Linked DNA regions of Homo sapiens. The protein of the gene in region 1 interacts with the protein of each later gene in a pairwise test. Each region holds a gene or a part of one and is shown in the gene's direction. Other genes may lie near its edges.

What was found.
Region 2: the proteins of NF2 (region 1) and RNF138 interact in binary tests that used the Homo sapiens proteins (3 or more experiments, as listed by UniProt).
Region 3: the proteins of NF2 (region 1) and SCAPER interact in binary tests that used the Homo sapiens proteins (3 or more experiments, as listed by UniProt).
Region 4: the proteins of NF2 (region 1) and SPATA22 interact in binary tests that used the Homo sapiens proteins (3 or more experiments, as listed by UniProt).

What each region holds. Positions count from the first base shown.
Region 1 is NC_000022.11:29,606,615-29,613,641, forward strand, and holds part of NF2 (merlin), read left to right. Parts: intron 1-7,027. UniProt on the Homo sapiens protein: Probable regulator of the Hippo/SWH (Sav/Wts/Hpo) signaling pathway, a signaling pathway that plays a pivotal role in tumor suppression by restricting proliferation and promoting apoptosis.
Region 2 is NC_000018.10:32,108,858-32,115,884, forward strand, and holds part of RNF138 (E3 ubiquitin-protein ligase RNF138), read left to right. Parts: intron 1-2,896; coding exon 2,897-3,062; intron 3,063-4,887; coding exon 4,888-5,003; intron 5,004-7,027. UniProt on the Homo sapiens protein: E3 ubiquitin-protein ligase involved in DNA damage response by promoting DNA resection and homologous recombination.
Region 3 is NC_000015.10:76,902,322-76,909,798, reverse strand, and holds the start of SCAPER (S phase cyclin A-associated protein in the endoplasmic reticulum), read left to right. Parts: upstream 1-4,458; 5' UTR 4,459-4,500; exon of another isoform or gene 4,501-4,595; coding exon of another isoform or gene 4,596-4,606; intron 4,607-5,007; exon of another isoform or gene 5,008-5,051; coding exon of another isoform or gene 5,052-5,185; intron 5,186-7,477. UniProt on the Homo sapiens protein: CCNA2/CDK2 regulatory protein that transiently maintains CCNA2 in the cytoplasm.
Region 4 is NC_000017.11:3,447,809-3,454,835, reverse strand, and holds part of SPATA22 (spermatogenesis-associated protein 22), read left to right. Parts: intron 1-5,686; coding exon 5,687-6,029; intron 6,030-7,027. UniProt on the Homo sapiens protein: Meiosis-specific protein required for homologous recombination in meiosis I.

The sequences.
Region 1 (7,027 bases):
GTGAAGGTTTTGGTAAGAGGCAACTGGGAGATCTGCGGATTTAATGGAGATGCAGCCTAGACTGTAGGCCTCCTGGTTTGCTGGAAAGAATTGGGGAATAAGACAGCTGGAAGAAGCCATTCTAGGATCAGAAGAAGGATCAAACATTGACCGCAGCATGGTGGCTCACGCCTGTAATCCCAGCACTTTGGGAGGCTGAGGCAGGCAGATCATCTGAGGTCGGGAGTTTGAGACCAGCTTGACCAATATGGTGAACCCCATCTCTACTAAAAATACAAAAATTAGCTGGGCATGGGGGCATACACTTGTAATCCCAGCTACTTGGGAGGCTGAAGCAGGAAAATCACGTGAACTGGGAGGTGGAAGTTGCAGTGAGCCAAGATCACGCCACTGCACTCCAGCCTGGGTGACAGTGAAGCTCTGTCCTGTCACAAAACAAAACATTGACCACAGACCTCTGAGGTGGTGGATGTCCCTCCTGTCCTGGTTGTATCATTATACATTGTATATTAATGTATCGAAATACTACAGGTACCCCCAACATGTGTACAACTATTATGAATCAATAAAAAACAATTTGAAAAGTAAGGTATGTGGCAGAGGTGGAAAAAAATGCTTTCCTCCAAACAGCCACAATTTGATTGTATCAGTTTGTAGAGTAAGAGCAAGTTATGCCTCAGTGTGTTGTTGAAAATAATAGAACAATATGCCACAATTAGTGGAGCTTCATAGCTGGGTGTGGTCAAGGAGAGAATAGAAGAGAACCCTACCAAAACCACTGTCATCCCAGGGTGACTGTGAGCATACCCAAAGCTGCACCTCCCTGAAGAGCAATATCATAGGCCTTAACACTTTTCAGGGGAAATGGATTTCACTCAAATAATCCAGCCAGTCGCTAAACAAATAAATAACAATTGGCCCTGGAGAGGGGGTACCAATCCCCAGAGTTGCTACAGTATATTATCTAAAATGTCCAGTTTCCAACAAGAAATTGTGAGACGTACAAAGAAACAGGAAAATATGACACATACACTGGAAAAAAGCTGGCAGCAGCAACTGCCTGTGAGACAAGGGGCCAAATTAATGAAAAAGGCTTCAAACTGGCCTATATATATATTCACAGTACTATATATATTCACAATACTAAAGGAAAATATGATGACAAAGAAGTAAAGGATGGTATGACACTGTTGCATCAATTAAAGAATATCCATAAAGATATAGAAATTATAAAAAAAGAATCAAATGAAAATTCTGGAGTTGAAAGTACAATAACAGCTGGGCGCGGTGGCTCACACCTGTAATCCCAGCACTTTGGGAGGCTGAGGCGGGCGGATCACCTGAGGTCGGGAGTTCGAGACCAGCCTGACCAACATGGTAAAACCCCGTCTCTGCTAAAAATACAAAAATTAGCCAGGCGTGGTGGCCGGCACCTGTAGTCCCAGCTACGCGGGAGGCTGAGGCAGGAGAATTCCTTGAACCTGGGAGGCGGAGGTTGCAGTGAGCCAAGATCGAGCCACTGCACACCAGCCTGGGCAACAGAGCAAGACTCTGTCTCAAAAAAAAAAAAAAAAAAAAAAAAAGTACAATAACAAATTTAAAAATTAACTAGAGGGACTCAGGACTCAATAACAGATTTGAACTGGGTGAAGAAAGAATTCGTTAATTTTTTTTTTCTTTTTGAGACAGAGTCTCGCTCTGTTGCCTAGGCTGGAGTGCAGTGGGGCAATCTCGGCTCACTGCAACCTCTGCCTCCCTGGTTCAAGCGATTCTCCTGCCTCAGCCACCGCACAGTGGCTTTGGGAGTACTCTGGGAGGCTGAGGTGGGTGGATCACCTGAGGTCAGGAGTTCAAGACCAGCCTGGCCAACATGGTGAAACCCCATCTCTACAAAAATACAAAAATTTAGTTGGGCATGATGGCGGGTGCCTGTAACCCCAGCTACTTGGGAGGTTGAGGCGGGAGAATTGCTTGAACCCGGGAGGCGGAGGTTGTAGTGAGCAGAGATCGTGCCACTGCCCTCCAACCTGGGTGACAGAGCGAGACTCCATCCCTGCCCTGAAAAAAAAAAAAAAGATGTGAAACACATACAAAAAAAAGTAAAATGGCAGTTGAATGCCAAGTAATTAGATAACTTCAATAAAATGGACAAACTCCTAGAAAGATATAAACCACCAAAATTGACCCAAGAAGAGACACTATCTGAATAGACCTATAACAAGTAAAGATATTAAATTAGTAATTGAGGGGACTCGTGGGGTAACTTGCCCTTGGGAACCAGTAGTATGGCATCGGGCTGCAAGATTGGCCTGTCCATCCTCAATGCTACCTGGCCAATTTAGGGGCCCAGTGCCTCTGGATGCTAGACTCTGGGGTCGATTATCTCCACCGGAATGTAATGGATGAACATGCATGTGATGGTGTCCAAGCCAGAACAGTGGGTAAAGCCAATGGCTATAAGAGGAGCCAATCAGTACATCTTTCATCTCGAGGAAACTGAGAACCCAGGGGCTTTGATTAAAGACATTCAGGAGAATGGGATGAAGGTTGGCCTTGCCATAAAACCAGGAACCTCAGTTCAGTATTTGGCACCATGGGCTAATCAACTAGGTATGACCTTGGTTATGACAGTGGAACCAGGGTTTGGAGGGCATAAATTCATGGAAGATATGATGTTAAAGGTTCACTGGTTGAGGATCCAGTTCCCATCTTTGGCTATAGAGGTCGCTGGTGGAATAGATCCTGACACTGTCCATAGGTGTGCAGAGGCGAAGCTAACATGATTGTGTCTGGCAGTGCTATGGTGAGGAGTGAAGACCCTAGATCTGTGATCAGCCTGTTAAGAAACATTTGCTCAGAAGCTGCTCAGAAAGATTCTCTTGATTGATGAAACCTTAAGGAGCCCAATGTTTGTTTATGAAATCTCCTTTTTACTGGAAAACAGGAATATTGACTACCAAATCATAGTGTAGTTGAAGCCATTCTGCGTTTTTGAGCAGTTATTCGTTTCAGTGATTATAATTGATTGTGCAGAGTATTCTAAGAAGTTAGAAATTGGTGTGTATAACTACATTTTCAGTGATGCAATTTAATGATTAGTGAGTGAGATACTGTTTTTATTGAGAGCCTTGATTTTTATAAAGAGTAAAAATATGGCTGCATTAAGGGTACAAACAGAAAAGTGTCTTAATGTCTAAGGAGGGCATATTAGCTACACTATAAAAACAATTTTTTTCTGTATTTCTGAAAAGAATTTTGTTGTTTCTCAGTTGTTTTCCAAAAGCAAAGGAAGTCTTAATGTTTTTTTCTATTTCGTGTTATGTGTGATTTGTTTATATGCTTGGTAATATGAGTCTAATGGAATTTAAAAATATAAGTTTGGGTAGGATAGTATACCCTTAAAAAATAAATAAATAATTAGAGAGAGAGAGAGAGAGAGAGACCTGGGCACAGTGGCTGTTGCCTGTAATCTCAGCACTTTGGGAGGTCAAGGCAGGAGGATCCTTTGAGGCCAGGAGCTTGAGACCAACCTGGGCAACATAGAGAGACCCCAACTCTAAAATATACATACTATATCTAAACTCAGCTAGGCGTGGTGGTGTGAGCCTGGAGTCCCAGCTACTCAGGAGGTTAAGGTGTGAGGATCACTTGATCCCAGGAGGTTGAGGAGGCAGTGAGCTATGATTGTGCCACAGTGCTTCAGCCAGGGTGACAGAGTGAGACCCTGTCTCTTAAAAAAAAGAAAAGAGGCTGGGTGCAGTGGCTCATGCCTGTAATCCCAGCACTTTGGGAAGCCAAGGTGGGCAGATCACGAGGTCAGGAGTTCAAGACCAGCCTGTCTAATATGGTGAAACCCCATCTCTACTAAAAATACAAAAATTAGCCGAGCATGGTGGAGTGCGCCTGTAGTCCCAGCTACTCGAGAGGCTGAGGCAGGAGAATCGCTTGAACCCGGGAAGTTGGAGGTTGCAGTGAGCTGAGATTGCGCCACTGCACTCCAGCCTGGGTGACAAAGTGAGACTCCATCTCAAAAAAAAAAAAAAAGAAGAAAGAAAAGCAAAGCAAAGCCCAGGCCTGTACCTACTAGAGGTCCTGATAACTTCACCACTGAATTCTATCAAACATTTCAAGAAAAATTAATACAGTTCTTCACAAAGTCTTCAAAAATGAAAAAGAGGAGAAAATACTTACAAACGAATTTTATGAGACTGGTATTACCCTGTTGCCAAAAACCAGGAAAAGACATTACAAGAAAAGAAAACCATAGACAAATATATCTTACAAATGTGGAAGCAAAAATCCTCAACAAAAATACTAGCAAACTGAATCCAGTAACATATAAAAATAATTATATACCATAAACAAGCAGGATTTATTCCAGGAGTGCAAGGTTGGTTTAACATCCAAAAATGAATTAGTGTAAATAATGTAATGCATTATATCAATAGAATAAAAAACAAAAATCACCTTGTCATCTCAGTAGACACAGAAAAAGCATTTGACAAAATTCAGCATGTTTTTCATGATAAAAACACTAAATAAACTAAGAAGAGAAGAGCAGTTCCTCAACCTGATACACAGCAGTTATGAAAAACCCACAGCTAACTTCATAATAGTGAGACTGAGGCCAGGCACAGTGGCTCACGCCTGTAATCCTAACACTTTAGGAGGCCAAGGTTGGAGGGATCACTTGAGGTCAGGAGTTCAAGAACAGCCTGGCCAACATGGTGAAACCCTGTCTCTACTACAAATACAAAAAAAAATTAGCCAGGTGTGGTGGTGCATACCTATAATTGTAGCTACTTGGGAGGCTGAGGTGGGAGGATTGCTTGAACCTGGGAGGCAGAGGTTGCAGTGAGCTGAGATAGCACTACTGCACACAATAGGCTGGGCGACAGAGCTCAAAACAAACAAACAAACAAACAAAATAGTGAAAGACTGTATGCTTATCCTTAAGATTAGGAAAAAGAGAGATAAGTCTACTTTCACTACTGCTATTCAGCATTGTACTGGAGGTTCTAGCCAGGGCAATTAGGCAAGAAAATGCAATAAAATACATCTATGTTGGAAGGGAACAAGTAAGATCATCTCTGCAGATGACATGATCTTGCATATAGACCCTGAGGAATCCACTACCAAAGTATTGGAACTAATAAATTATTAGTTTAGTAAGGTTATAGGATACAAGATCATTACACAAAACTTAGTTGTAAATGTATCCACTTGGAATGAACAATCTGAAAAGGAAATTAAGAAAATTCCATTTACAATAACCTAAAAAATAAAAATACTTATAACAAAAGAGGTATCTTTTTTTCCATCCTCTGACAGTTTAGTAAAAGAAAGTATAAAACTTATACTCTAAAAGCTGTAAAACATTTTTGGTTTTGTTTTTTAAATTAATTTTTTTTGAAACGGAGTCTCACTCTGTCGTCCAGGCTGGAATGCGGTGGCGCGATCTCGGCTCACTGCAACCTCTGCCTCCCAGGTTAAAGCGATTCTCCTGCCTCAGCCTCCGGAGTAGCTGGAGCTACAGGTGTGCACCACCATGCCTGGCTAATTTTTGTATTTTTAGTATAGAGGGGGTTTCACCATGTTGGCCAGGCTGGTCTCGAACTCCTGACCTCAGGTGATCCACCCGCCTCAGCCTCTGAAAGTCCTGGGATTACAGGCGTGAGCTAGTGCGCCCAGCCTGGCCTTTTAAAATATTTAATTAATTGATTTTTTTTTTTCTCGGACTTGCACTGAAGTGAGAACAAGTGCAGTGGTGCAATCATATCTCAGTGCAGCCTAGACCTTCCAGGCTTAAGTGATCCTCCTATATCAGCCTCCCAAGCAGCTCAGACCACAGGCATGCGCGATCATCCCTAGCTTTTTTTTTTTGTTTGTTTGTTTTTTAATTTCTTGTAGAGACAGAGTCTCCCTGTGTTACCCAGGCTGGTCTTGAACCTGACCTCAAGCAACCTCCCATGTTGGCCCCTCAAAGTGCTGGGATTACAGGTGTGAGCCACCGTGCCTGGCCTGTAAAACATTTTTAAAAGAAAGAAGATATAAATAAATAAATAAATAGAAAATAGCTCTTGTTCATGGATCATAAGACATAACGTTGTCAAATTGGCAGTATTTTGGAAATTGATCTACACGTTTGACATAATCCCTGTCAGAATCCCAGTTTATTTCATTGTAGAAATTGACAAGTCTCCAGGCGTAGTGGCTCATGCCTGTAATCCCAGCACTTTGGGAGGCCGAGGCAGGCGGATCACCTGAGGTCAGGAGTTCAAGACCAGCCTGGCCAACATGGAGAAACCCTGTCTCTACTAAAACTACAAAATTAGCCGGGTGTGGTGGCACATACCTGTAATCCCAGGTACTCGGGAGGCTGAGGCAGGGAATCGCTTGAACCTGGGAGGCGGAGCTTGCGGTGAGCTGAGATCACGCGCCACTGCACTCCAGCTTGGGCAACAAGAGCGAAACTCCATCTCAAAAAAAAAAAAGAAATTGACAAGTCAATTCATAAATTCCTATGGAATCGCAAGGGACCCACAATAGCTAAATCTTGAAAAAGAACAAAGCAGAAAGACTCACGCTTTGTGATTTCAAGACATACTATAAAACAACTAATCAAGACAACGTCACCAGGCACCGTGGCTTATGCCTATAATCCCAACACTTTGGGAGGCCAAGGCAGGCAGATCACTTGAGGACAGGAGTTCGAGACCAGCCTGGGCAACATGGCGAAATCTTGTCTCTACCAAAAATACAAAAATTAACCGGGCGTGGGGGTGCACACTTGTAGTCCAAGCTGCTTGGGAGGGCTGAGGCACAAGAATCCCTTGAACCCAGGAGGTGGAGGTTGCAGTGAGTCGAGATCGTGCTATTGCACTCCAGCCTGGGGGACAGAGCGAGATTCCATTTCAAAAAAATAAAAATAAAAAGACAGTGTGGTACTGGTATAAGGATAAATGTGTAGATCAGTGGCATAGAATTGAGAGTCCAGAAATAAACCCAGTGGAATAGAGTTGAGAGT
Region 2 (7,027 bases), on another chromosome or scaffold:
TTTTTACAGGAGCAAAGTCTCACTATGTTGTCCAGGCTGGCCTCAAGTAATCCTCCCGCCTTGGCCTCCCAAAGTGCTGGGATTATAGGCATAAGCCACTGCCCATGGTTTTATGTATATAGGTTTGATGGGTATATACTTCAGAGTGGAATTTATGCGCTCTAATGGATATTGCCACCCAGTTTTCCAAATGGTTGTAAAAGTTTATACTCCCATAGCCTCCAATGTGAGTTTAGGTTGGTTCATATCCTCCCTAACACTTGGTATTTCCCACCGTTTTCATTTTTGTCTTTTTCTTTCTTTTTTTTTTTTTTTAAACAAGGTCTCACTCTGTTGCTCAGGCTGAAGTGCAGTGGCACGATCTCAGCTCACTGCAACCTCTGCCTCACAGGCTCAAGTGATCCTCTCACCTCAGCCTCCTGAGTAGCTGGGACTACAGGCATGTGCCACCATGCCAGGCTAGTAGAGATGGGGTTTCACCATGTTGCCCAGGCTGGTCTTGTGAGCTTAAGCCATTTGCCCCGCTCAGCCTCTCAAAGTGCAGGATTACAGGTGTGAGCCACTGTGCCTGGCCATTGTTTTATTATTACTATTTTTTTAGAGACAGGGTCATGCTGTGTTACCCAGGCGGGCCTTGAACTCATTGGCTCAAGAGACCCTCCCACCTCAGCCTCCCAAGTGGCTAAGACTACAGGTACATGCTGCTGTGCCCAGATTTGGTTACTTTTACTATTTTTAAAACTAGTTTTGCTGGGCACCATGGCTCACGCCTGTAATCCCAACACTTTGGGAGGCTGAGATGGCTGGATCACTTGAACTCAGGAGTTCAAGACTAGCCTGAGCAACTGGCAAAATCCCATCTCTACAAAAAGTACAAAAATTAGCCGTCGCAGTGGTGCATGCCTGTAGTCCCACCTACTGGGTAGGCTGAGGCAGGAAAATTACTTGAGCCCTGGAGGCAGAGGTTGCAGTGAGCCAAGATCGCACCAGTGTACTCCAGCCTGGGCGACAGAGCGAGGCTCTGTCTCAAAAAAATAAAATAAATAAAACTAGTTTTTAGTTTGGCAAGTGAAAACTGGCATCTTGTTTACTTTGCGTTATTTTGGTTTCTGGCTATGGTAAATATTTTTAATTGTTATTGTTTTTTGAGAGACAGTATTGCTCTGTCACCCAGGCTGGAATGCAGTGGCACCTTCATAGCTCACTACAGCTTCAACCTCCTGGGCTCAAGTGATCCTTCGCCTCAGCCTCCTGAGTAGCTGGGACTGGACGTGCATGCTACTATACCCAGCTAATTTTTTTTATTTTTAATTTTTGTAGAGACAGGGTCTTGCTATGTTGCCCAGGCTGGTCTTCAACTCCTTGCCTCAAGCTGTCCTCCTGCCTTGTCCTCCCAAAGCACTGGGATTATAGGCATGAGCCACTACGCCCTGCCTAATGTTTTAGTTTATGGTGTTAATTGGTAATGACTTCTAGTGCTGCTTTAATGATATTAACTACTATTTATTGAGCACTTTCCTGACCATGACAAATAATGTGTTAAGCATTTTATACTTGTTATCTATTTTAATCCTCTGAACAGCCGAATCAGTTGTAGATACTTTTATTATTTCGTGAGTGAGGAAACTGATATTAGAGGGAAAAACTGACTTGTTTAAAAGTGCTGCATAGTTAGGAAACTCAGGTTATGTGATCTGTTACTGCACCATTTCCTCTCAACTTCTGTTAGTATAGAGGAGGAATATTCATATATATTTATAGGAGATTGGATTAAATGTATATGTATTCTAGATCCCAGATATATATGTCTGTAATTTAACTGGTTCTCTTGAAAGCAAAATGATCAAATAAGGTATTTGGTGGGGCTAGAGAAGATAAAAAGATTTTAGTTTGATTCTAATTAGAAAGTTGGTTATAAATGTTTAATCTTTTTTTTTTTTTGAGACGGAGTCTTGCTCTGTCGCCCAGGCTGGAGTGCAGTGGTGCAATCTCGGCTCACTGCAACCTCTGTCTCCTGGGTTCATGCCATTCTCCTGCCTCAGCCTCCCGGGTAGCTGAAACTACAGGCGCCTGTCACCACGCCCGGCTAATTTTTTATATTTTTAGTAGAGACGAGATTTCACCGTGGTAGCCAGAATGGTCTTGATCTCCTGACCACGTGATCCGCCTGCTTCAGCGTCCCAAAGTGCTGGGATTACAGGCGTGAGCCACCGTGCCCGGCAAAGCCGGAAGTATTCTTAAGTATTTCTCAAATTATGTTCCATTGCATACTGTTTGGGAAATTTCCCTACTTCCGGACCAAATAACCAAATATCTGTTAACACGCAGATAACTTTGGGTAACACCTAACTTTGGGTAAAACCTATTAACTTTATCCTAGAACTTCCCAAACCAATTTGTGTGCTCTTTTGTAGTAGACCTGTTTATGTCTTGTGGAACAACATGTCGATATACATCAGTTTGAGACAAAAGCTTATGTTACTCATCCTTTTATTTTGTAAGGGGAGGAAATGGAGATCCAGTGTGCGTTAATTTGTTGGCCTAAGATTACACAGCTACTAAATGGCAGAGCCAGGATCCGGTTTTTCCTTTGTACCATGCTTCCTCTAGTAATATTATTAATATGTAGCATTAATATTTATTCATCATATATTATGTTAAGAAGTTGTAAAGCAGACTTGAGTGTAATTGTTCAAATATTCCCATCTAGTCCAGTTATCAGTCTTACTCTCTGATAAATACATATACAGTTACTAAACTTCTGAGATTTATGTACATATGAGTAGCCTAACTTATTTAATATGAATACATATTTATAATCACTTGTTTGTATTTAATTATAGAGATGAAGAGAGTAATTTTTTTTGTAATTAATGTGTCACAATGTTTGGTTTAGTTTCTGTAGAAAATGTTTCCTGACTGCAATGAGGGAAAGCGGAGCACATTGTCCCCTATGTCGTGGAAATGTGACTAGAAGAGAGAGAGCATGTCCTGAACGGGCCTTAGACCTTGAAAATATAATGAGGAAGTTTTCTGGTAGCTGCAGATGCTGTGCAAAACAGGTAGAGTAAATGTGACATCTCTCTTCTTTGGAAGCCAAGTTTCTACTCTGAAATTCTTATTTGAATTTTCTTGGTTGGTGTTTTTTTTTTTTTTGAAAAGATGAAAGGTATTTAGACTGGGAATTGGATAGAAAAGGCCAAAAAAAGCTGTGGTCATAGATCTTACTAGATTATAAACTTACTGAGAAATGAGACTGAAAAAAAAATCACTGAATTTCATAATACTTAGCGTGGCATTTTTCTAAAAGTAATTTCTCATTGATTACTTGCTAAAGTAACTAAATTAGCAAGCTGGCATTTAGCTCATTTAAACCCCATTCTGGTACAAATTCACCCCTTAAGTTTTTCTCATGGTAGCATCATTATTGCAGCTTTACACATAGAAATGTTACTAGTTTGGGCACATGGATTTATGTAGTTTAAGGAACTCTCTAGCTCCTCACTTTACTTATGTATTTATGTATGTATTTAAGAAATCACAAGGGCCGGGCATGGTGGCTCATGCCTGTAATCCCAGCACTTATGGGAGGCCAAGGTGGGTGGATGACCTGAGGTCAGGAGTTCGAGACCAGCCTGACCAACATGGTGAAACCCCGTCTCTACTAAAAATAAAAAATCAGCCAGGTGTGGTGGCGCATGCCTATAATCCCAGCTACTTGGGAGGCTGAGGCAGAATTGTTTGAACCTGGGCGGCAGAGGTTGCGGTGAGCTGAGATTGCGCCATTGCACTCCAAACTGGGCAACAAGAGCGAAACGCTGTCTAAAAAAAAAGAAGAAGAAAGAAATCACAAAATATTTGGTTAATTTTAAGGAACATGTAGGAAAATCAGGTGTTAACAAATAACCAGCATTAATTCTCTAATCTGGATTTTATTCTATCATTTGGAGAAGGAATAAAATAGAGAGGGGTGGTTAGGCTTTGAGTATATCCATGTGTCTATAGATTTATCACCGACATTTTTTCTAATAGCTAATGAATTCAGTGAGCAAAGCTGGTTGCTATTTCATGCATTCACACAAGTCAGATCTGCTTTTACATCTTTTTGAAGGAAGTGTTTAACTGACAGGGCAATGACGTGAAGCTGGAAAACACACTCGAGAGATTCTGGCTATTCCTCTCAGTGAGAAACTGAAAAATGTTCCAAGTATTCCTGGCAACTTAATTTTTTTTGAGACAGGGTCTCACTTTGTCACCCAGGCTGGAGTACAGTGGCACAATCTCGGCTCACTGCAGCTTTGACTTCCCAGGCTCTAAGCAATCCTCCTGCCTCAGCCCCACAGGTAGCTGAGATTACACCTGGCTAATTTTTGTATTTTTTGTATAAACAGGATTTTGCCATATTGCTCAGGCTGGTCTTGAACCCCTGAACTCAAGCAGTCCACCCATCCCAGCCTCCCAAAAGGCTGGGATTACAAGCGCGAGCCACTGCACCCAGCCAGGAACTTAATTTTTTTTTAAGTGCTTTCTAACTCTGCCAGGCTGCAGAAGTTAAATAATAAGACATGCCCAATAGCATCTGGCATCCTCTTAGTGCTTTTAATTTTTTTGTCTACTGCTGGTAGTGTCTTTTCAAGTGTGAAGTTATTTGCTGTTTTTTGCAGTGAATTTATAGACAGATGGACTCTTCTCCATCTCTACATTTAATGAACAGAAATGTATTATCTATTCTTAACTCCTACTTAAGGATGAAATCATTTACTTTAAAAAAATACAACTCCTGTTTAAATGGAGTATTTAGTTACTTTTATTTTTTCCTCTCTTTACACTATTTCAAATCTTACGAGTTCTATTTTAAATTAAAAGTCACATTTTAATAATTTACAGATTAAATTCTATCGCATGAGACATCATTACAAATCTTGTAAGAAGTATCAGGATGAATATGGTGTTTCTTCTATCATTCCAAACTTTCAGATCTCTCAAGATTCAGTAGGGAACAGGTAAGCAATACTTATTCCTAAATACAGAATTTTCATAATTGAAATGGAAATTGTTTTGGGAACTATATGATAAGGTATTTGGGGGGATGTGTGTGTGTGTATGTGCACATGTGTTTTTAAAGTGAATTGCCAAGTATCAGAACTACAGCATTTGCCTTAAAATCTGTTTGGCACACGTAAGCTCTCATCTGGGAGATGACTTCATGAACTTCAGCTTATGTTATTTAAAATCATTCTAAGAATTTTCATTTTTTTGAGTAAAAAATAAGTTGGAGATTTTTCTCTTACTGATTTTGCAACTGAAATGATTTGAAAAACTATAGAAAATCCTTTTCAGTAATGTATTTGCAAACTACAACCTGTTTTTTCTTTGCTATCTAAGGGATAGACTTAGAGTTTGAAATTTTTATTCTAAAATGTCATGTAAAAATGAAACCAGGTGCAGTGCAGTTCTGTTTGAGTCTCATTTCTTTTAAACAACTAGATTTGGATTGATTTGTATCTTATCTCAGATTCATGTACATTAAACATTTTTATGAAATGTATTTTACACAGAAAAATGGCCAAAATGCACTTGTGGTTTAAAAAAATAATGATTAACATCCAGTTACCTATTAACCCAGGTCAAGAAAGAACATTTTTCAAAACTTCAGGATCTCTATGTGAGCTCCTGCCCATTTGAACCGTACACTCCTAGATGCAACCACTATTCTCTTATTTGGATTATTCATTCCTTTGATTTTCTTTATGTATCATCACCCATGCATGTATCCCTAAACAATGCATTGTTAATTTTGAAAACTTCAGTAGTAAGCACATACGTAACTGTAAGGAAAGACAATATTGCCACTATTATAGAAAGGTTCCCAGGAGACAGTATGTTAAGCAGTCTCTAATATTTTATTTTAGTAGCCTTTCATTTTACATATTGCTAATTTTTAGTAACTTAACCGCCCTTAAGCACTTCATGTTGATCATACTACATTAGGCGTCTTCCCTACTCAGTTGAAATTTCTGGTAAAAACCTTTAGTGATTGTCTGGTAAAGATCTGCAGTAATTTTCTGATTGCCTAGTCTGAAAAAACTTCAGGTTCTCATTTTACTTGACTTGTTAGTGTCAAGGAAATTTGTTTGAAAGTTGTTGCTCTTATAGTTTTTTTTTAGTCCTTCTGGGTTTCTTCATTTCTATGTTTTTCTTATTGTTGTACTTCTACTTTATTGTAATTTCCTATCTGCTTTTTTACCCAATAGATTGTTCTTAAGTGAGGGGATGGTGTTTGTCTTGTTGAGCATATCTCCAGCTTTTAGTAAAGTTCTTAGTATACATGATTGTAATCACGCTTTTAATGACCAAATTTTCTTATCAGGAGACAGGCCTTCCTCCCCCTTATTTCTTAGATCCACTTGGTCATAGACACTTGATTCCTAATAGCAATATTCCTCATCTGTACTTTTATTTTATCTTGTCACTTCCCTAGCTCAGGCCCTCATCATCTCTCACTCGAACTATGATAATAGCCTTTTTAGCTGGTAGTTATCCTCTAATCTGTTTTACATTCTATCGCCAAAGTAATATTAATGAAGTATAAAAGACAAAATTCTGGCTGGGCGCGGTGGCTCACACCTGTAATCCCAGCATTTTGGGAGGCCAAGGTGGGCAGATCACTTGAGGTCAGGAGTTCAAGACCAGCCTGGCCATCATGGTGAAACCTTGTCTCTACTAAAAATACAAAAATTAGCTGGACGTGGTGGCGCGTGCCTATAGTCCCAGCTACTTGGGAGGCTTAGGCAGGAGAATCACTTGACCCTAGGAAACGGAGGTTGCAGTGAGCCGAGAGCACATCACTGCACTCTAGCCTGGGCGACAGAGTCAGACTCCGTCTAAAACACACACACACGCACACACACGCACGCACGCACACACACACTTCCTTATTCCAAAGCCCTTTCTGATCTGGCCCTTTCCTCTCTTTTTATAGCCTCTTTCTTGGTTATCCATCGTTGCATCACATGCCTTAGCCATG
Region 3 (7,477 bases), on another chromosome or scaffold:
AGGTTTAATTGACTCACGGTTCTGCATGGCTGGGGAGGCCTCAGGAAACTTATAATTATGGTGAAAGGGGAAGAGTCACATCTTATATTAGGGCAGGTGAGAGAGAGAAGAATGAGGAGCAAAGGTGGAAGAGGCCCTTATAAAACCATCAGCTCTTGTGAGAGCTCACTATCATGAGAACAGCATGGGGGAAACCGCTCCCATGATCCATTTACCTCCCACCAGGTCTCTCCCTAGACATGTGGGGATTATGGGGATTATAATTTAAGATGATATTTGGGTGGGGACACAGTCAAACCATATAAAATGCTACATATCCACTGGGGATCAGCTGCAGTTCTGCTCCATGTCATCTCTAGTATGGAACTTATGCTGATGGAATAGCTTCTCTCTAAAACAAATTGCTTGTGGCAGACAGAAAAGAGACATGATGAACGCACAAGCTAGCTCTTATAAATTCTGCTTGGAACTGACATTCCTGCTTACATTTTATTGGCTGAAGCAAGTTACCTATCTGCCATCAGTGGGGCCAAGGCAGCAGCACATCACGGAGGGGAACCAGACTGTTTGGCATATCATTAATAGGAATAGATTTTGTGGCAAAAGAAAATGAGTGGTAACCTGATTAAAAAATTGGCAAAGGATTTCAATAGACATTTATCTAATACCATACATAAATGGCCAATAAGCACATGAAACTATGCTATCAGGGAAGTCCAGATCAAAACTACAATGAGATACCACTTCACATCCACTCAGATGGTTGTAATAAAAAAGACAGACAATGGTAAGTGCTGGAAAAGATGTGGAGAAACTGGAACCCTTATATGCTGCTGGTGGGAGTATAAAATGGTGTAGCTGGTTTGGTAAATCATCTAGCAGATCCAGAAAAATTTAAAAATACAGTTACTATGTAGCCCAGCAATTCTACTCCTAGGAATATACCCAAAATAAATGAAAATATATATCCCCACAAAAACTTGTAAATGAATGCGCATAGCAGCATTGTTCATAATAGTCAAAAAGTGGAAATAGTCTGTATGTCCTTCCACTGATGGATAAATAAAAGGTGATTATATATTCTATACAATGGACTATTATTCAGCCTTAAAAAGGAATGAAGCGTTGATGCATGCTACAACGTGGACATACCTTTTTTTTTTTTTTTGAGATGGAGTTTCACTCTGTCACCCAGGCTGGAGTGCAGTGGAGCGATCTTGGCTCACTGCAAGCTCCACCTTCTGGGTTCACACCATTCTCCTGCCTCAGCCTCCCCAGTAGCTGGGACTACAGGCGCCCACGACCACGCCCAGCTAATTTGTTCTATTTTTTAGTCTAGACGGGGTTTCACCTTGTTAGCTAGGATGGTCTCGATCTGCTGACCTTGTGATCCGCCTGCCTTGGCCTCCCAAAGTGCTGGGATTACAGGCGTGAGCCACCGCGCCCAGAAACATACCTCGAATATATGCAAAGTGAAAGAAGCCAGTTACAAAATACCACATCTCATGACTCCCTTTATACAAGGTGTCCGGAGTAGGCAAATCTATGCATAGAGAAAGTAGATTAGTGGTTGCCTATGGCTGAGAGAATTGAGGGAAAATGGAGAAGTGAGTACTGGGTTCCTTTCCGGGGTAAAGAAAATGCAGTGATGATTGTACAATTGTGTGAATATCCTAAAAACCACTGATTTGTATGTAGGTTACATCTCAATAAAGCTGTTTTATATGTATATAAGAAAGATGAATCATTTTTATTTTTGTCATATTTATTTTTATTAATTCAAGTGGAGATGACCAGTAGGTAGTTAACAATGTGGCCTGGATCCCAGGAGTAGGAATCAGGGCTGGGGATATATATTCGGAAATCCAGAGCATAAAGATGCTAACCAAAGTTATGTAAAAGGCAGTGGTCATGTAGAGAGTGTGTCCAGTGGGAAAAGAGTGAAGGCTTATACCTATTCCTGTGGGATAACAATATTTAAAGGCTGGGAGAAATAAGAGAGACTTTAAAAGAGATGGAGAGGGAGTGGTTAGAGATGGAGAAGTGCTACCAAGAGAGTAAAAATGAAAGGCAAGGAAAAGTATTTCCAGAAGGAAGGAGGGTCATGAAGAGAAATTAAGTTAGGTAATGATGATAATGTCCATAAGATATATAGTAGGGAAATCCCTAGTGACTTTTTTTTTTTTTTTGAGACAGAGTCTCGCTCTGTCGCCAGGCTTGAGTGCAGTGGCATGATCTGTGCTCACTGCAACCTCCGTCTCCCTGGTTCAGCGATTCTCCTGCCTCAGACTCCTGAGTAGCTGGGATTACAGGCACATGCCACCACGCCCAGCTAATTTTTGTTATTTTTAGTAGAGATGGGGTTTCACCATGTTGGTCAGGATGGTCTCGATCTCGATCTCCTGACCTCGTGATCTGCCTGCCTCGGCCTCCCAAAGTGCTGGGATTACAGGCGGGAGCCACCAGCCCAGCCCAACTTTTTTTTTTTTTTTTTTTTTAATTGAGATGGAGTCTCGCACTGTCACCCAGGCTGGAGTGCAGTGGCATGATCTCAGCTCACTGCAAACCTCTGCTATCCAGGTTCAAGGGATTCTCGTGCCTCAGCCTCCCGAGTAGCTGGGACTATAGGTGTGCGCCACCGCACCCGGCTATTTTTTTTTTTTTTTTTTTTGTATTTTTGGTAAAGACAGGGTTTCGCCATTTTGGCCAGGGTGGTCTTGAACTCCTGACCTCAGGTGATCCACCTGCCTCAGCCTCCCAAAGTGCTGGGATTACAGGCGCGAGCCACGGCGGCTGGCCCCTAGTGATGTTGGAAAGAATGGTTTCAGTGGGGTGGTGGGGCAGAAACCAGAGTGCAGTAAGTCCAGACTTGAGTAGTGGTTGAGGAATTGGAGGCACTCTTGTTTAGATAATTGGAGAAATGTATTATAGGAAAGAAAGCAGAGGTTGAAGTGGAGTCTGGTAGGTTCGGCGGGAGATTTCAAGATGGGAGAGACTTCAGGTTGTTTACATGCTTATGAGTATGAAAGGAAGTGGGGATAATTAAGAAATGAGGCCCTGACCGCCTTTTATAGAATTGTAGTATGCTCCCTACTCTATCCCCCTTATCCTACTCATTTTGTTAACTGTAGTGCTTATCATGTTATATAATTTACTTATTTATTGTGTTTACTATTTCTTGTGTTAAAAGCAAAATATTAGCCAAATTAAACAGAGTTTGAGCAAAGAATTATTCCCGAATCAGGCAGCCTCCTGAGCCAGAGTAGGTTCATACAGACTCCCGCAGAGCCACATGGTGGAAAAAGGTTTATAGACAGAGAAAGAAAAGTGAGGTAGGGAAACAGCCAGAATGGTTATAGCTAGACGTTTACCTTATTTGAACACGGTTTGAACAGTTGGCCGTCTTTGGCCAAAACTTGGTGATTGGCGCAAGAGTAGGTTGCAGTGTATTTACACCTCCATTTAGGTTATAGTTTACTATTTACGGAGAAACCTTCAGGCTGAACTTAAAATATGTAAGGACACAGCTTTTGGCTAAACTTGATGTAACACTTGCCTGGTTTCACCCTGCTCCAAGAAGCCGGAGGTTTTTTAGAGATTTCTGTTTATTTTGCTCACGTATTAACTCCAAGCATCTAGAATACCATCTGATATATAGTATGTGGTCAATAAACATTTGCTGAATAAATGAAAAAGCGAGTTTTCTAAGAAGGCAAGAGAGAAGGGGAGCCAGAACATAGCCATATGGTTCCTGCCCCCACAACGCTTGTGAGTCCAGGACTTCCCGCCTACTGCGGGTGGGGAGGGAGAGGGAAGGGTAAAGAGCTGTTTCCCAGCTGGATGAAAAGGGACGGTGAATATTCGTTTGATAATTACAGTCTGCATTGAATCTTTTTTCTATTTTGTTCAGACTGATTTAAACGTTAAAGTATTTAATTCATCATATGTTTGTCTTTGAAGTAGATGAAACGTATTTGTTAGGTCTCTGTACTTCGACCTTCCAAGCCTGGCACACAGAAGGGCCCTGATAAAGCTTCTCGGAGGCCTAGTTGTGTTCAGCGCAGCCCAGCGTGCTCCTGTCAAGTGCTTTCGCCAGCACAGATTTCTGTGAGGCGCGTCTCTAAGTCCTTAATCTGTGGATTGACTGTGGTGATAAGGCAGGAGGAGGGAAGAGATTGAGTACGAGAAAGACCTGTGTGGCCAAAAGCGGCGGTGTAAGCTTAACCTAGGAAAAGAAACAGCTTCGGAAACGCCGCGCCGGGACATCGAACCAAATCAACCCTCACACCTCCCGCCTGGGCGCCCCAACGGCGCGAACGGGCGTGCGCCTGCGCGCGGACAACACAGATCTTGCAGCCGGGAGCGGCGCGGCAGCGGCTGAGATCACGTGGTGCGCCGGGAAGCCACCCCGCCTCTCCGAGGCCTCCCTGCCCCGCCCCGTCACGCCCCTTTCCCGGCGGGACGCTTTGAGCCGCCCCGAACTAAGCAGGGCGGTCGGGGGTGAGTGTCCGCGAGGGGCGTGCGTAGCGCAGACCCGGGCGGGTCCGGGTTGGGGCGCGGGCCGTCTGAATGCCTTGCGGGGACCAGGGGACAAAATGGCGGCGGGGTACGCCCTTTCACCCCCTCCCCTCACCTGGGAGTGCGAGTTGAGCGGGGCAGGGATCGTTGCTGGGGGAGGGGAGCCGCGGTCGCCTGGGGAGGGCTCGGAGGTCGGCCTCGGAGGCCTCGGGACGGGGGCTGGGGTGAGCCGCGTCCGGGCCCTGCCCTGCGGGCTCATCTGGGGTGTGAGGGACGTGAGACCCCGCACACTACGCGGTCTGAGGGGTGAGTGGGGGGCTGCCGCGTCACCTCACTTGGGGGCAGCCCCGGCCGCGGGTGACGAGGCTTCTGGAATGTCTAAATGCGAGGGGCCCCTGGAGGAGCCTCCCTTCGTTTGACAGGTGATCGTCTTCGTCATCTGTCATTCCCAGCGGGGTTTACCATGCTTTCCCTGTACTCTGATCTTAGCTCTGCCCAGGAAACGGGGCAGGAATGGCCTCTCCGTCTTCCAGATGCGTGCGCTGAGGCCTGGAGGGGCGAAGAGCCTCTCGCACCTGGGAGTAGTGGGACCCAGCCTCCTGCCTCTGTTGCTGCTCTTTTCCAAAACAGCACTTCCTTGGCGCCTTTCCTCTACACCGTTTTCCAGGCGCGTTCGTGGGAACGGCACCAGGGAGGAACGGGATTGTTAGAAAGCAGGCACAAAACTGGTCCTGTAAGCAACACCTGCTGCTGTTAAGGGGGCCCCAGCTGAGATGAGGCCGCCTGTTTGTGAGCAGCTTCCTGTTGCTGGTGGACTGCATCTCTTATTCTAGTTGTGACAAGTTATTTTCCATGAAAATAGCTATTCATTAATAGTCATTTTACCGAACAGATACTAATTCCTTATATGAATTATAGTTTGTCTTAGTTTATGGATTAATTTCATCATTAACTTTTCATCTTCATAAATAATCTGGTAGAAGGATGGATGGGCTAGGAGTAATACTTATTTTATGAATGGAGAAACGGGGGCTCAAAAGGTTATTACTTGCCTTAGATCACCAGCTGGTGAGTGGTAAATCTGGGGTTAAGTTTTCTGACCTAAGGTTGGTAGTCTGACCACTGTCCCACTCTGGCCTATACTGGTGCTCTTTCCCTTCTGTTATTTCTGTTAACTATGACTTTTCCTCAAAGTTTGTTGGTTGCAGATGATTTATGCCACTTGAAGAATGATATCCACTAAAGAATTAATATTTTTAATCAATCAAAGAGTCAAGTTTTAATGTGATTTGGAAGGTTGTCTGTGGGAGAAGTAATCTGATGGCTTTGAAGGCAGACTGTTTTGAGTTTGAATCTCAGCCCCAACCCTTGTTTTTGGCAAATTAATTTTTCTGAGCCTTTCTTATCTGTAAAGTAGGAATAATATCCACCTCATAATTTTGTTGATAGTAATAAATTAGGTGTCTGTAAAGTATTGAGAACTGTTCCTAGCCCATGGTAAGCCCTCAACAAATGCTCTTTTCCTTCTTTCTCCACACTCCCTTGAGCTGCATTAAAAATATACTCTATGTGTCTTTGGTCCATTTGGGTCTGGTATAGCAAAATACCTCAGACTGAGTGGCTTATAAACAACAGAAATTCATTTCTTGCAGTTTTGGAGGCTGGGAAGTCCTAGATCAAGATGTCTGATGATTCAGTGTTTGGTGATAGCCTGCTTTCTGGTTAATAGATGGCACCCTCTAGCTGTCTCCTTACATGGTGCAAGGGTGAAGGGGTCTCTCTCTGGCCTCTTATAAGGGAATTTATCCCATTCATTAAGGTTCTGCTTTCATAATACAGTCATCTCCCAAAGGCCCCACCTCCTGATATGACCTTGGAAACTAGGATTTCCACAAGAATTTTGAAGAACACAAACATGCAGACCATAGCATTATGGTTAATCACTTGGTTGTTCAGGTCAAATAACCATGGAAGTGTAATCAGCAGTACTGTACAAATGTGTTTATAAATAAATTTTGGTGACTGGTCCAAAGGATATAGTATTCTAAACAGACTTTAAAAATGTTTGCCATTGGTGCTTCATAGGTATTTTAAGAACTCCTAAAAGATTGATATTAAGGTCATTAATGTCTTCATTTAGCTGCAGGAATGTTTTAAAGATAAGTAAGATGAAGGGACTTGAGATTCTGTCATTTCTTTCACTTTCTTTTTTTTTTTTTTGAAACCGAGTCTCACTCTGTCACCCAGGCTGGAGTGCAGTGGCGCAATCTTGGCTCACTGCAAACTCCACCTCCCAAGTTCAAGCGATTTTCCTGCCTCAGCTTCCTGAGTAGCTGGAACTACAGGCACTCACCACCATGCCTGGCTAATTTTTTTTTGTATTTTTAGTAGAGACCGGGTTTCACCATGTTGGCCATGCTGGTCTCAAACTCCTGACCTCAGATGATCCACCCACCTCGGCCTCCCAAAGTGCTGGGATTACAGGCGTGCGCCACTGCACCTGGCCTCTTTCACTTTCATACCTGACCACAGCCCAGACTAGTTTTAAAGGATAAACAACTTCTTTGGGAATCACATGTGAATGTTATTTAAACACTTAGAAAGTGGGGGTATTATTTAGGGGGAAGTTTAATAGAATTCTCTGTAAGGGTACAATCTGATATCCATTGTGGAATTGGCATTTCTGAAATTGTAGAAGAGAAAACTGTAAATGGCTGGCATAGCAAAAATTAAATCATTAATAAAATTCTGTTTGCAGTTTCTGCTGGATGGTAACCTTTTTTTAAAAAAAAATTCAACTTATATAGTAGAGGGTACATGTGTAGATTTGTTACATGGGTAAATTGATGCCGATGCTTGGGGTCCCAATTATCCCATCACACAGGCCATAAGCATAGTACACAACAGGTGGTCTTTCAGCCCATGCTCCCCTTGGCCTAGTGATCCCTAGTGCCTGTTG
Region 4 (7,027 bases), on another chromosome or scaffold:
TGACCCAGCCATCCCATTACTGGGTATATACCCAAAGGACTATAAATCATGCTGCTATAAAGACACATGCACACGCATGTTTATTGCGGCACTATTCACAATAGCAAAGACTTGGAACCAACCCAAATGTCCAACAATGATTGACTGGATTAAGAAAATGTGGCACATATACACCATGAAATACTATGCAGCCATAAAAAATGATGAGTTCATGTCCTTTGTAGGGACATGGATGAAATTGGAAATCATCATTCTCAGTAAACTATCGCAAGGACAAAAAACCAAACACCGCATGTTCTCACTCATAGATGGGAATTGAACAATGAGAACACATGGACACAGGAAGGGGAACATCACACTCTGGGGACTGTTGTGGGGTCGGGGGATGGGGGAGGGATAGCATTAGGAGATATACCTAATGCTAAAGATGAGTTAATGGGTGCAGCACACCAGCATGGCACATGTATACATATGTAACAAACCTGCACATTGTGCACATGTACCCTAAAACTTAAAGTATAATAATAATAATAAAAATAAATAAATAAATAAAACAAAAAACAATATCAATTCTTCAAATCCATGACACAGGATTTTTCATTTATTTTGTCTTCAGGTTTTTTTTTTTTAATCTGTTTTATATTTTTTAGTGTATAGACCTTTCTCTATCTTGGTCATTTATTCCTAAGTATTTTATTCTTTTTGGTGTTATTGTAAATGGGATCATTCTCTTGGTTTCCTTTTGGAATATCTATTGTTGGTGTAAAGAAATGCTCCTGATTTTTGTATGTTGATTTTGTATCCTGCAATTTTACTGAATTCATTTTTTAGTTCTAACAGTTTCTTAATGGAGTTTTTAGGGTTTTCTACATACAAGATCATGTCATCTGCAAACAGAGACATTTACTTCATCCTTTCCAATTTGCGCTCCTTTTATTTCCTTTTCTTGGCTAATTGATTGGCTAGGACTTCCAAGACTAGTTGAGTATTACTTGTCTGAAATATTTGGGATCAGAAATGTTTCAGATTTTTTTGTAGTTTGGAATATTTTCAGAATACCTACCAGTTGAGTATCCTAAATTTGAAAATTCAAAATCTGAAATGCTTCAGTGAGCATTTCCATTGAGCATCATGTTGTTGCTCAAAAAGTTTCAAATTTTGGAGCATTTCGAGTTTTGGATTTTCAGATTTAGAATGCCCAGCCTGTAACTATGTTTGAATAGAAGTGGTGAGAGTGGGCATCCTTGCGTCGTACTGGATCTTTGAAAAAAAACTTTCAGTTTTCCCCCATTATGATGTTAGCTGTGGGAATTTTGCAAATGACCTTTATTGTGTTGGAGTATGTTCCTTCTATACTTATTTTTTTTAGAGTAAACTGAATGGATGTTGAACTTTGTCAGATGCTTTTTCTGCATCTATTTTTGTCTTTAATTCTGCTACTGTGGTGTATAACATTGATTGATTTGCGTATGTTAAACCAACCTTGCATCCCAGAAATAAATCCCAGTTAATCATGGTGTATAATTTTGTTAAAAAATATTTCAACTTTCACTTTAAATATAAGCGGTACATGTGCAGATTTGTTTACATGGGAATATTGTGTGATGCTAAGGTTTGAAGTATGGATCCTGTCACCTCACCCATGAAGTGAACAGAGTACTCGACAGGTAATTTTTTTGATGTGCTGTTGAATTTGCCTTGCTAGTATTTATTGAGGATTTTTGCATGTATGTTCTTTAGTGATATTGGCCTGTAGTTTTCTAGCAGTGTCTTTGTTTGATTTTGATATCAGAGTGATGCTAGTCTCATAAAATGAATTTGGAAGTGGAATTCCCTCTTGTTTTATGAAAGAATTTCAGAAAGATTGGTATTAATTTGTCTTTGAATGTTTGATAGAATTCACTGTGAAGTCATCTGGTCCTGGGCTTTTCTTTGTTGAGAGGTTTTTGATTACTTCGTTAATCTCCTTATTATTGGTCTGTTTAGGCTTTCTGCCTCTTCTTGATTCAATCTTGGTAAGTTGCTTGTTTCTAGGTATTTATCCATTTCTTCTGTGTTATCCAATTTGTTGTCATATAATGTTCATAATAGTCCTTTATGATCTTTTTTATTTCTGAGAAATCCATTGTATGTCTCCTCTTTCATTTATTTAAATCTTCTTTTTTCTTTTTTTAGTCTATGTAAGGGGCTGTCGACTTTATCTTTTCAAAAAAATAAGCTCTTAGTTTTTCTTTTTTTTTCTTTTTGAGACGGAGTCTCACTCTGTTGCCAGGCTGGAGTGCAGTGGCACGATCTCGGCTCACTGCAACCTCCACTCTCGGGTTCAAGCAATTCTCCTGTCTCAGCCTCCCGAGTAGCTGGGACTACAGGCCTGCCCCACCATGCCCAGCTAATTTTTATATTTTTAGTAGAGACGGGGTTTCATCATGTTGGCCAGGATGGTCTCGATCTCTTGGCCTTGTGCTCCGCCTGCCTCGGCCTCCCAAAGTGCTGGGATTACAGGTATGAGCCACCTCGCCCGGTCCCAGTTTTGCTTTTTTTTTTTTTTAATTCTCTATTTTATTTATTTCTACTCTAGTCTTATTATTGCCTTTATATGCTTATTTTGGGCTTAGTTTGTTATTCTTTTTCTAATTTCTTTAAGTGTGAAGTTAGGATGCTTATTTGAGATCTTTTTATTTCCACTTGGGCATTCATTGCTATAAACTCCCCTTAGTACTGCTTTTGCTTTCCCATAAGTTTTGGTATGTTATGTTTTGTTTCTGTCTCAATAATTTTAAGATTTTCTTTTTTAATTCCCTCTTTGATCAATGATTGTTCAAGAGGGTGTTGTTGTATTTGTGAATTTTTTCATTTTCTTTTCTGGTTTTCTTTTTTTTTTTTTTAATTGAGACAGAGTCTCGCTCTGTCGCCCAGGCTGGAGTGCAGTGGTGCAATCTCGGCTCACTGCAATCTCCGCCTCCCAGGTTCAAGTGATTCTTCTGCCTCAGCCTCCCAAGTAGCTGGGACTACAGGTGCATGCCACCACACTCACCTAATTTTTGTATTTTTAGTAGAGACGGGGTTTCACCATGTTAGCCAGGACAGTTTCGATCTCTTGGCCTTGTGATCCGCCCACCTCGGCCTCCCAAAGTGCTGGGATTACAGACGTAAGCCACCATGCCTGGCGAATTTTTCCATTTTCTAGCTGTTATTGATTTCTAGTTTTATACCATTATGGTCAGAAAAGATACTTGGTGTGATTTTGATCTTCTTAAATTTGTTAAGTCTGTTTTTGTGACCTAACGTGAGTTATCCTTCAGAAAGTTCCATCTGTGCTTGAGAAGAATGTGTAGTCTTCTGCTGTTGGTTGGCAAATTCCATATATGTCTTTTGGGTCCATTTGATCCATAGTGTTGTTCAAGTTCACTGTTTATTGATTTTTCTGTCTGGATGATTTATCTATTATTAAAAGTGGAGTATTGAGCTTTCTTTTTTTTATTATGTTGCTGTCAATTTTTCCTTTTAGATTTGTCAATATTTGCTTTATATATTTAGGTGCTCTGATATTGGATGTATATATGTTCACAATTTTTATGTCTTCCTATTGAATTTACCCATTTATCATTATATAATGACTTTCTTTGTCTTTAGAAACAACTTTTAACTTAAAGTCTATTTTGTCTGACATAAACTTAGCCACCCCTGTTTTCTTTTGGTTGCTGTTTGCATGGAATATCTTTTTCCATCCCTTTATTCTCAGCTTTTATGTGTCTTTGAATCTAAACTGAGTTCATTGTAGACAGCATACAGTTGGATCTTTAATCCACTCAGCCTCTCCTCATATAGGCATACCTTATTATGTTGCACTTTGCTTTATTGCACTTCACAGATACTGCATTCTTTACAAGTCAAAGTTTCGTAGTAACCCTGCATTGAGCAAGTCGATTGGTGCCATTTTCCAACAGTATGTGCTCACTTCATGTTTCTATGTCACATTTTGGTACTTCTTGCAATATTTCAAACTTTTTCATTATTATTATATCTGTTATGATGATCTGTGATCAGTGATCTTTGGCATTACTACAAATGTGCTGAACAGAGAGTTGTAAAGCTGAAATAAATTTTTCTAGACTATGAATAATAAAAGTAATTTCTATAACCATGAGAGTGAGGAAAGACAAAATTGTGTTTCTGTTCTCTTTATTGAAAATAAAATTACAAAATTGTTGCGTGTGATGGTACGTACCTGTAGTGCCAGCTACTCTGGAGGTTGAGGCAGGAGAATCACTTGTGCCCATGGGTTTGAGACTGGCCTGAGTCCAAAAAAATTACAAAATTATTGTCGTATGAAGAAGTGATCAGTGTAGGAAAAAATTTCTATAAAGGAGTATCAGGCAGTTAATTTATAATAATTCTAACAATTTTTTTCTGGGTATCGTGATGTTTGTGGTGTTTATAACTTAAATTGTTGTAATTGTGCTTTCTTTTCTCGTTATTTTGTACTAACTTTGTACCCAATTAACAGTGTTCCCCAAATTATACAAGCTTCAGACCTCATAAAACTTGGATTTGTTCCTGGTCAGCAGTGTACCTAGACCTCTTTTTGGATTATTTACCTAAGTAGGGGATGGGTTGTATTGGTTGCCCTCTTGTGATACTTGTGGTATTTCCAGGAAAATTACTGAGAATTAAGAATTTGTGGGCTGGGAATGGTGGCTTATGCCTCTAGCCCCAGCACTTTGGGAGGCCAAGGAGGTGGATCACTTGAGCCCAGGAGTTTGTGGCCAGCTTGGGCAACGTGGTGAAACCCTGTCTCTACAAAAAATAACAAAAATTAGCTGGGCATAGTGGCACTCACCTGTAGTTCCAGCTACTCAGGAGGCTGAGGTGGGAGGATCGCTTGAGCCTGGGAGATTGATGCTAGAGTGAGCTGTGTTCTTGCCATTACATTCCAGCCTGGGTAACAGAACGAGACCCTGTCTCCAAGAGAAAAAAAAAAAATTCGTGACTTAGACTAGTTTTGTTTCCTGTGGAACTCCTAACTAGGCTGCTCAGAAATTATGCTTTTGATTTTGGCCTCATTAGCATCTAGCATAATGTTCTGGTCAGCTGATATAACACACTTAATGTTGCTGACAAATGCTGTACCAAATACATTATAGGGCTTTTAAGCTGTGCAGTAAAACCACAAAATTTCTAATCAAATATTAATAGCTATCTATCCTGCTTATATGTATTCTCCTTGTGATTTAAAATCATTGCTAAGCCACAGTTTAACTTCTTAAAATTTTACTTTGTAGAAAATTTTAAAATTGAATATATAAAGAAGCAAGTAAATGCCCTCAAAGTCTTACCACTTGGATACAACTACTATCATATGAAGAATGCTATCATTTAAAAATATACTTTGTAGTACTAGACTCTGAGTTGGGAGATCTTGTATTTCCTGGGTTCTAGACTTGTGAGTAATTTCCTGTATGACTTTGGACAAGTTAATTCCTCATTAGGGATCAGTCTTCTCATCTGGAAAGAGAGGTAGTACAACATTGTAGGGTTGTTGTGATGTATTTGGAATTTCTCAGTAGTTAGTTATAAAGTGCTTTCTAAGTCATAAATTGCCATATAAATGAATTTTTCATTATTAATTTTTTTTGTAATTAAGAAACCATATAGAAACAAATGCTTTTTTTTTGCACTATTACAGCTACAGAGATGGTAACAAAAATACCAGCTTGAAAACTTGGAATAAAAATGATTTTAAGCCTCAATGTAAACGAACAAACTTAGTGGCAAATGATGGAAAAAATTCTTGTCCAGTGAGTTCGGGAGCTCAACAACAAAAACAATTAAGAATACCTGAACCTCCTAACTTATCTCGCAACAAAGAAACCGAGCTACTCAGACAAACACATTCATCAAAAATATCTGGCTGCACAATGAGAGGGCTAGACAAAAACAGTGCACTACAGACACTTAAGCCCAATTTTCAACAAAATCAATATAAGAAACAAATGTTGGATGATATTCCAGAAGACAACACCCTGAAGGTAAATGTTTAAATACAAATTAATGACTTATTTACATTTTTAAAAATATGAGGTAAATATTTAGAAAACTACAGAGATAAGAGCGCCTGAAATAAATTCCATGACATACATTACTTGATTAGCATAAATATTCAGTTCCATTGAAGTGGATGAATGTTAGTTTCCAAAATATTTTCTTAGAGGGTATGAATGGCTGCTCCTTTTCCTTTCAAACTTTAGAGTTTTCTGCTGGATTCTGACTTTCACTTTACACTCATTTTAAAGATAAAGACAGTTTATCCATTGTTTATGAAGTTACCCAGGCTCTTGATATGTCATTCTAAGTATTTTTCAACAGAGGTCAGCAAACATTTTTCTTAAAGGGCCAGACAGTATTTTTGGCTTTATGGGCCGTACTGTCTCTGTTGCAGCTACTCAGCAATACTACTCAACTCTGCCACTGTAGCTTGGAAGCAGCCATAAGCAATACATAAATGAATGGACACTGCTCTCCTCCAACAAATGTTTACACAAATAGATAGCAGGTTAGATTTGCACTGCAGGCCATAGTTTTCTTTATGATCAACTTATTATGACCTTTGCTTTATGATCTTGTCCTAGTCTACCTTTGTAGCCTCATATTTCATAGTCTACTAATTGTCCAATGCTCTAGCCACTTCAGACTCGTCACAATTCTCTAAACATAGCATACACTCTGTGCTTTGGTTTATATTCTTCCCTATACCTGTATCTCAACTGTACTTCCTCTCTACGCTCAGTGCTCTGATTGCTCTTTGTAAATGTTATTTATATATTATGTGTGCTGGTTATTCCTCATCTCTGCTCCCTGGCCCCTTGGCCCACTTGATTCTTCACCTGCCCTTCTCTGTTGTGGAAGGCTGAACTGTCCTATGTAGTGCATCATCCTGAGATTGTTTACTTGCTGGCTTTTGCTAGAGGTCAGCCAGTAGGAGTCACTGGTACGACATCATAGGGTGGGAGGAAAGGTTGGGTTTTCT